2 separate regions of the Homo sapiens genome follow, and region 2 is linked to region 1. Evidence: fine-mapped expression QTL. A gene starts in region 1. The other region holds a variant in brackets. All regions are shown on one strand. Distances are between the middles of the regions. Region 1 holds the start of CEACAM1 (CEA cell adhesion molecule 1). Region 2 overlaps PSG3 (pregnancy specific beta-1-glycoprotein 3).

What was found. PIP is the estimated chance that this variant, and not a neighbour inherited with it, causes the effect.
Region 2: its variant is the best candidate, but not a certain one, in a credible set for the expression of CEACAM1 in whole blood (INTERVAL, PIP 0.63).

The regions. Positions count from the first base shown.
Region 1 is chr19:42,526,617-42,531,011 of GRCh38, reverse strand. It overlaps CEACAM1 (CEA cell adhesion molecule 1), which reads left to right and starts at 2,531. Exons shown (of 9, transcript NM_001712.5): 1 at 2,531-2,701; 2 at 3,612-3,971. The coding sequence starts at 2,638. All of the region lies in intron 2 of LIPE-AS1 (LIPE antisense RNA 1), which reads right to left. RefSeq lists enhancers at 1,369-2,231, 2,454-2,523.
Region 2 is chr19:42,723,473-42,727,867 of GRCh38, reverse strand. It overlaps PSG3 (pregnancy specific beta-1-glycoprotein 3), which reads left to right. Exons shown (of 7, transcript NM_021016.4): 6 at 3,843-3,926. The coding sequence ends at 3,886. Among named protein-coding and RNA genes, the nearest start is that of PSG3, 15 kb to the left of the region's middle. The variant C/T (reference allele first, on the strand shown) is at 2,145.

The DNA of each region.
Region 1 (4,395 bases):
GAGACCAGCCTGACCAACATAATAAGATCAGTCTCTACAAAAAAATCAAAACACTTGGCTGGGCATGGTGGCTGTAATCCTAGAACTTTGGGAGGCCTAGGCGGAGGATCACTTGAGCTTAGGAGTTCAAGGCCAGCCTGGGCAACATAGTGATACCCTGTCTCTTTATTTAAAAAAAAATTGAAAAATAAAACAAAAAATTAGCCAGGCGTGGTGGCGTGCACCTATAGTTCCAGCTACATGGGAGACTGAGGCAGGAAGATCACCTGATCGCAGGAGGTTGAGGCTGCAGTGTACTCCAGACCCTGTCTCAAAAAAAAAAAAAAATCTGTAGTCATCCTACAGTGGTATAGAACATTAGAACTTATTCCTCCTCCTATCTAGCTGTATTTTTTTTTTTTTTTTTTTTTGAGACGGAGTCTCGCTCTGTCGCCCAGGCCGGACTGCGGACTGCAGTGGCGCAATCTCGGCTCACTGCAAGCTCCGCTTCCCAGGTTCACGCCATTCTCCTGCCTCAGCCTCCCGAGTAGCTGGGACTACAGGCGCCCGCCACCGCGCCCGGCTAATTTTTTGTATTTTTAGTAGAGACGGGGTTTCACCTTGTTAGCCAGGATGGTCTCGATCTCCTGACCTCATGATCCACCCGCCTCGGCCTCCCAAAGTGCTGGGATTACAGGCGTGAGCCACCGCGCCTGGCCTTATTTTTTTTTAAGATGGAGTCTCACTCTGTCGCCACACTGAAGTGCAATGGTGCAATCTTGGCTCATTGCAACCTCTGCCTCCCGGGTTCCAGTGATTCTCCTGCCTCAGCCTCCAAGTAGCTGGGACTACAGGTGCCCACGACCACACCTGGCTAATTTTTTGTATTTTTAGTAGAGACGGGGTTTCACCATGTTGGCCAGGATGGTCTCAATCTCTTGACCTCATGATCCACCCGCCTCGGCCTCCCAAAGTGCTGGGATTACAGGCATGAGCCACTGTGCCCGGCCTATCTAGCTGTAATTTTATATCCTTTAACACATCTTTCCCTGTCCCTCCCTTCCTCTACCCTTCCCAGCCTCTGGTATGCTCTGTTCTACTTTTTCCTTCCATGAGATCAACTGTTTTTAGGTTCCACATATTAGTAAGAACATGTGATGTTTAACTTTCTGTTCCTAGCCCACTTCCATTCATGTTGCCACATGTGACAGGATTTCATTCTCAAGCCCCCAAAGGCACCTCACTGGGCCTTTGTTTTTTTGTTTTGTTTTGTTTTTGCTTTTGTTTTTCAAACCTCTGGGACAGATGGCTCCTTCTAAGGCAGCCCATCCCCCTGGTGGACAGTTCTCTCCAATCTTGACAGAAGTCCTCTGGACAACTCACGTCCTCTCCCTGGGCTCATCCTGCACCGCATGGAGCTGGGCAGCCTGGGGACCCGCAGTGAACAGGACCTGGGGTGACTTGACCTTGAAGCCTGGAGGTCAGAGCCCACATCTGCCCAGGGGTCAGGGCCAGCTCACATCATGTAGACCCTGGTCAGCATCCCTGGGGCAGCCCTTGACAAGGCTGCAGGCCTTGTCTTGCCCTCCAGGGGGAGACATTGCACACAGACAACACTCAGGAAACATTCCCCTGGTCATGAACCTGGCTTTGCTAAGGAGGTGAAGGTAGAGCCCACTTTCCATCCCTTGCTCCAAAACACCCTTCCAGGCCCTCCCATGTACCTGCTCTGTCCCTTCCTGGGTCCTCTGAGGACCCTGTTCTGTGAGGGGTCCCTGTGCAGCTCCCCATTCCCTCCTGGCACCACCTGTGGGGAAGGTGCGGTGACCACAGGACAATCAGCCTCGCAGAGGACAGAGACCACCCAGGATGGTCAGGGAGAACATGGACAGGCCTTGAGCCTCAGCTCAAGGGAGGGAGGGTCCCCCTGAAGTCTTCCCCAAGGACAGTAGAGCCCAGAGCCACCCACCTCCCTCTATCACAGTCCTCTCTTCCCAGGACACACAGGACACCTCCCCCTCCATATCCGGGAGCTGCAGCTCCACCTGAGACCCCTGGACTTGGGTCTCTGTCCCTGGGTTAGAGGCCAGGCTGGTGACACTAGAGACAGAGGGCTGGTCCCTCCCCAGTCATCCCCCAGTGAGCCCCTTTCCATCCCCCAGAGCCACCTCTGTCACCTTCCTGCTGGGTGTCTTCCTACCTTCCCAGCACACTGAAGAGCATGGGGAGACCTGGCAGCTCACTGTGTTGCAAAGAAAATAATTACCACATTTGGATATGCCAGGGTTCTCTGTGTGCTGCTGACAGACCCATAGCCAGGACACAATAGAGGTCAGTGCTGGAGAGGGGGGATCCTCCTCCCCTGATGGGGACAGAGGTCTCATCAGCCTTGATTCTCAAAGTGTGGTCTGGGAAACCAAAATGTAGACAGAAAGGAAAGAGAAAGTAAGGACAAAGGTAGGAATGAGAGGAGAGGAAACAGAGCTTCCTGGACAAACCCCGCCCCAGCACACATGATCAGACAAAGCTCTGGGCCCCAGGGAGGAGGCTCAGCACAGAGAGTGGAAAACAGCAGAGGTGACAGAGCAGCCGTGCTCGAAGCGTTCCTGGAGCCCAAGCTCTCCTCCACAGGTGAAGACAGGGCCAGCAGGAGACACCATGGGGCACCTCTCAGCCCCACTTCACAGAGTGCGTGTACCCTGGCAGGGGCTTCTGCTCACAGGTGAGGGGAGGACACCCTGGGAAGGGGCGGAAAGAGGGCGCACAGAGAATGGCTAGGGTCCTCTGGGGAGGATGGAGCTCTAAGAGGGGACAGAGGGCTTCTCTTGGAGCCAAATAGGAGAGAGGACATGAAAGGGATAGAGATCATAAAAGGAAAGTCTCAGTGATCTGAAACTGTTAGTGAATAAACAATCTCCCATTTTTTACCTTTTCCAACTGAATCATCAATGAGCAATAAATTTCAAAAACTGCTGACAATAATCACAATTTAAGTCAGCGTGACAATTAAGGAAAACATTTTAAAAGGGGCATTAAACAGAGCCCTGAGCCACCAACCTCAGATATTGGCAAATAAACCCCAGGACATGAAGAGCCCTGGGAATGCTCACTAACTCATCCACAGGAGTCTGCAGCCTATCCCAGGCACTGGGGTGCAACCAACATCACACAAATCCCTGCCCTCACGGAGCTCACGCTCTCATGGGTGGGGAAGACAGACAAGCAAAGAGATCTAGAATGTGAGGTCAGGTGTTGACAAGAGCCCTGGAGGGAACAGAGCAGAAAAAGGTCAGAAAGGGAATACCCAGGGTCTCTAGGGGAGGTGTCAGGGAAAGGATCTCCCAAGAGCACCCTGATGTGATCAAGATCTGAGGGCAGTGGGGAGGGAGCCATGCGGATCCCTGGGGAAGGGCATTCCAGAGAAATGACAAGGTCAGAGGCACTAAGGGAATGGGAGTCACACTGCTGACCTTGACCCAGTAGGACACACACACACACACACACACACACACACACACACACACACACTCCAAGGTGGAGGGGTGAAGACACCTGCTCAGGACCCAAGGCCCCATTTTTCTACCCTAATGCATAGGTCCCAATATTGACTGATGCTCTCTCCTCTCTCCTAGCCTCACTTCTAACCTTCTGGAACCCGCCCACCACTGCCCAGCTCACTACTGAATCCATGCCATTCAATGTTGCAGAGGGGAAGGAGGTTCTTCTCCTTGTCCACAATCTGCCCCAGCAACTTTTTGGCTACAGCTGGTACAAAGGGGAAAGAGTGGATGGCAACCGTCAAATTGTAGGATATGCAATAGGAACTCAACAAGCTACCCCAGGGCCCGCAAACAGCGGTCGAGAGACAATATACCCCAATGCATCCCTGCTGATCCAGAACGTCACCCAGAATGACACAGGATTCTACACCCTACAAGTCATAAAGTCAGATCTTGTGAATGAAGAAGCAACTGGACAGTTCCATGTATACCGTGAGTATTTCCCCATGACCTCTGGGTGTTGGGGGGTTAGTTCTACTTCCCACACATGGGATTGTCAGGCCTGGGCTGTGCCTGTGTCCTCCTCTGCATTATACCCCATGTTAAGGTTTGAGCATCTAGTGCAGGACACACTATGGGACAGACATCAAAATACCGAATGTCTTACTCTGGAGTCCTGATCCTGCAGACATTTGCTTCAGAGGAAGGACAATCTGATGTGGGTAACTTATCGAGGGGAGACCAGTCTCAATCTAGCCCCCCGGGACCCTCCTGGTGAACATGTCCCTAAGAAAGACCCAGTAGGACTCAGTCAGGGTCTGGCCTGAAGGGCCTTCTGGGATCCTCACAGACAAGCTCAGCCCTGGGAATCCCCTGCTCCAAAACACTATCCCAAGGTTCTCAACTCCTGGTGACC
Region 2 (4,395 bases), 200 kb before region 1:
GTTGTTTCCATTTTTTGGCTAGTGTGAGTAATGCTTCTCTGAACATCAGTTTACAAATATTTGTTCAAATTTCTTTCAATTCTATGGGGATTATGTCCAGAAGTGGAATTGCTGGATCAAATGGTAATTTATTGTTTAATTTTTTGAGAGAGAGCCACACCACTTCTTACAGTGGCTATAACATTTCCCATTCCCATCAGCAATGCACTAGAGCTCCAATTTTTCCATCTACTTGAAAACACCTGTTGTTTTGTGTTGCTGTCATTGTTGTTGTTTATCAAAACCATCCTAAAGTGTGTGAGGTGGTGTAACAATGTGGTTTTGATTTGCATATCTCCAAGTATTCCTGATGCTGAGGAACTTTGCATGGGCTTATTTGATATTTGTATATCTTCCTTGGAGAAAACTCCATTTTAATCCTTTGTTCATTTTTTAATTGGGTTTTTGGATGTTTGCTGTTGTTGACTTGTAGCTTTTCATGTATTCTGGAAATTAATTTCTTATCACACATATAATTTGCAAATATTTTTATCATTTCGTGGGTTGCTTTTTACTTTCTTGATAGTGTTCTTTGATATATAAAAGGTTTTGATTTTTATGAAGTCCGATTTATCCATTTTATTTGTTGCCTATGCTTTTGTTGTTACAACCAGGAAATCATTGTGAAATCCAGTATCATGAAGCTTTTCTTCTAAGAGTTGAATAGTTTTTGCCCTTACATTTAGATCTTTGATCTATTGTGGGTTACTTTTTGTACATGGTGTTAGGTAAAGGTTCCACTGTTCTTGCCCTTGGATATCCACCTTTCCCAATATCATTTGGTGAGAAAACGGTCCCTTCCCCATTGAACGATCTTGGCACACTCGATGAAAATCATTTGGCCATATATGCAAGCATTTCTTTCTGGGTTATTATATTTCATTAATTTCTATGTCCTCCTTTATGCCAGTACCACAGTGTATTGATTACTGGGGCTTTGTAGTAAATGCTGAAATCAGGAAGTGTGAGTCCTCCAGCTTCATTCTTCCTCTTCAAAGCTGTGTGTCTATTTAGAGTCATGAGATGCAATATAAATTTTAGGACAGATTTTTTTTTACTGCAAAAATGTCACTGAGATTCTGATAGGAATTTTATTGAATCTGCAGCTCACGTCAGGTAGCACTGTCCTCCTAACAATATTGAGTCTTCCAATTCATGAAAACAAAATGTCTTTCAATTTATTGATGTCATCTTTCATTTCTTTCAGCCATATTTTGTAGATTTCAGGTATAATCATTTTACCTCTTTGGTTAAACTCATTCCTAAATATTTTATTCTTTTTGATGTTAATATAAATTGAAATTTTTTTTCTTAATTTCCCTTCAGATTGTTCATGGTTAGTGTATTGAAATACAACTGATGTTTGAATGTTGATTTTGTATTGTGCAACATTACTGAATTTATTTATTAATTCTAATAGGTTTGTTCCATCTTTAGGATTTTCTACATATAAGTTCAAGTTATCTGTAAACAGAAATAATTTTACTCCTTCCTTCCAATTTTAACGTCTTTTTTTAAATTCTTGCCTAATTTTTCTGACTAGACCTTTCAATACTATGTTGAATAAAAGTGTCAAAAGCAGGCACCCTTGTCTTGTTCCTGCTCATACAGGGAAAGCTTTCAGTCTTTCTCCGTTGAGTATGATGTTAGCATTGGGTTTTTCACATATTGCCTTTACGTTGAGGTGGTTTCCTTCCCTTCTTAGAAAGTTTTTATTATGAAAAAATATTGAATTTCATCAAATGTTTTATTGATTCAATCTTATTACTGATTATAGTTCCATTCATATTTTTGTGTGTTTCTAGGGGTTTGTCTACTTCATCTAGGTTATCCAATTTATTGGCATACAATTATTTATAGTACTTTCATAATCATTAGTTTATTAGAATTGGTAGTAATCGCTTCATTTTTCTTTTTTCTTTTTTTTTTTTTTTTTTTGGTTGTTGTTGTTGAAGAGAGAGAGACAGGCTCTCACTCTGTAGGCCAGCCCAGGATGGAATACAGTGGTGTGATTATGGCTCACTGCAGCCTCAACCTCCTGGGCTCAAGTAATTCTCCTTCTTCAGCCTCCCAAGATGCTAGGACTACAGGTGCATGTCACCATG[C/T]GCAGCTAATTGGCTTTTTTATTTTTTTGTAGAGACAGGGTCTCCCCAGGTTACCTATGCTGGTCCAAACACCTGGTCTCAAGAAATCCTTCTGCTGTGACTTCCCAAAGTGCTAGGATTAAAACATGACCCACCATGCTCAGAGTCCATTTTCATTTCTGATTTTAGGAATTTTAAACTTTTCTCTTTTTTTCTTAGTCAATCTAGTTAATGGTTGTCAATTTTGTTGATTTTATTTTGAAGAATCAACTTTTGGTTTCATTAATTTCCTCTATTCTTTTTCCATTCTCCATTTTATTTATATCCACTCTAATCCTTATTTTTCCCTCATTCACTGTGCTTGGGTTTAGTTTGTTCTTCTTTCATATCCTGAAGTATTAAAGTAGGTTGTTGACCTGAGATCTTTCTTCTTTTTTAATGTAAGAGTTTACAGTTATAAATTTCTTGCACAAGACTCAATTTCTCTGAACCTCTGATACCTCACCTGAAAACTGCAATAAGAGTGCTTTCTTCATACCTTTCTTTTAAAGGTTTAATGCAGTCAATAAAACGAGATGCCACACACAGTGGAACCAATGTCAGCTGCTATATGACTACCATCATCATTAGCCTAGAGGTCAAATAGTCCTAGAATCAAATCTCAGATCCACCTGTCACTAGCCATATGACACCAGGAAAGTTTTACACCACTCTAAGCTTCTGTCTTTTCATCGGCAAAATGGAAATAATGTCTACCTCACAGGGTTATTGTGTGGATTAAATGAGATACAGGGAAAGTATTTAGCACAGGGCCTGGCACATAGGAAGTGCCCCTCAACAGTACCTTCCTTTTTCCATATATATATATATGGAAAAAGAGGTAACACATAAAACACTAGGACATGGTTACTGACTACTTGTGGGAGAGAAAGAAAAAAAGCTAAGTGCAAAGAATCAAGCCTGGTATGTTAGTTTTTACTGACTGAGATGCATCCAAGATGGGATTAGACATACAAGATAACTTATCAGGGAAGACACCTGTGAGGGAATGTGGGGCAGGCATGAAGGTAGTACGGGAGAACCCACAGACCACTATGCAGAGCTGATTCCTGTGAAAAAGAAAGAGAAAGAAGTTTTAGGTACCAATTCAATTATAAGAGTTTTTGCAAGGCTGATGGGGAATCCTCCAACCAGTCACCCATTAGAGTTAAAGAGAGCCTCAGAGAACTAGACTTGCTTTCACGCCCTTGCTGGGAGCCTGTAGGAAAGAAGCTTTCTGTGCAAAGGAGGTGGTGAATTTGAAATGCACTGACCTGGGCCTTCTGTCAATCAAGTCTCTGCCATGGAGACCTGGCAGGGTCTCATTCATGACTGCCACAACAGAGACACTGAGAAAAAGATGCAACCATGAAAAGGTGCAAAGGTGGCAAGTTCTAATGACATAGAAAATAGCAATCAGCCTTTCTCACATCTGAAAGCCTTCCAAATATCTGAGCACAGTAGAGAATTGACAGAGGACTGATCACCAACTGAGAAACAGGGTGAGAGGGAAAAAAAAACTGCAAGAATATAATCATCTCCTATCAATTTTCCAACAGAAATAACGTAGTCCTTGAAGAAACAATTATAGAGTACCTCATGTTACATGCTTGTTCCTGAGGCTCCCCCATGTAAAATAACATCATCTTCATTCCTTCTTTTCTTTTTTTTCCATGACAGCTCCTTCAGGAACAGGACATCTTCCTGGCCTTAATCCATTATAGCAGCCGTGATGTCATTTCTGTATTTCAGGAAGACTGGCAGGTATGATGACCTTTCCTCTTATCCTGGTTCCTGCAGGGCTAACTGCCATGCTTGGGAGAGGGAAAAGACTTATTTGCCTGTATCTGGGACTGGATCTCCTCCTTCCTCCACTAACTCCTGCTTCTCAGCACTAATTCCTGCAGTTCCCTTTCTCCCTGGCCTTTATGCTCCCTGTACCCCACTGTCTTTTAGACATAATTATCTCCAGCCTCTCTCTCTGCTCATTTGTTTCTCAGATTCAAATGAAAAACACAATTTCACATGGTGAAACCCTCTTCATTATTTTTAACATCTCTCAATAGTGTAATTCTCTCCATTCCCATAAAGCTCAACCACTTCTCAAAGTATTGCTTGACTTCTTGTCTCCAGACTTTGAAATCTTCCTTGCATATGACTGCCTCATTACCTTTCTAAAATCTAGTTAATTCACTTAATCAAGAATCTCCAGGGGTCTACTCTAGCCACTTTG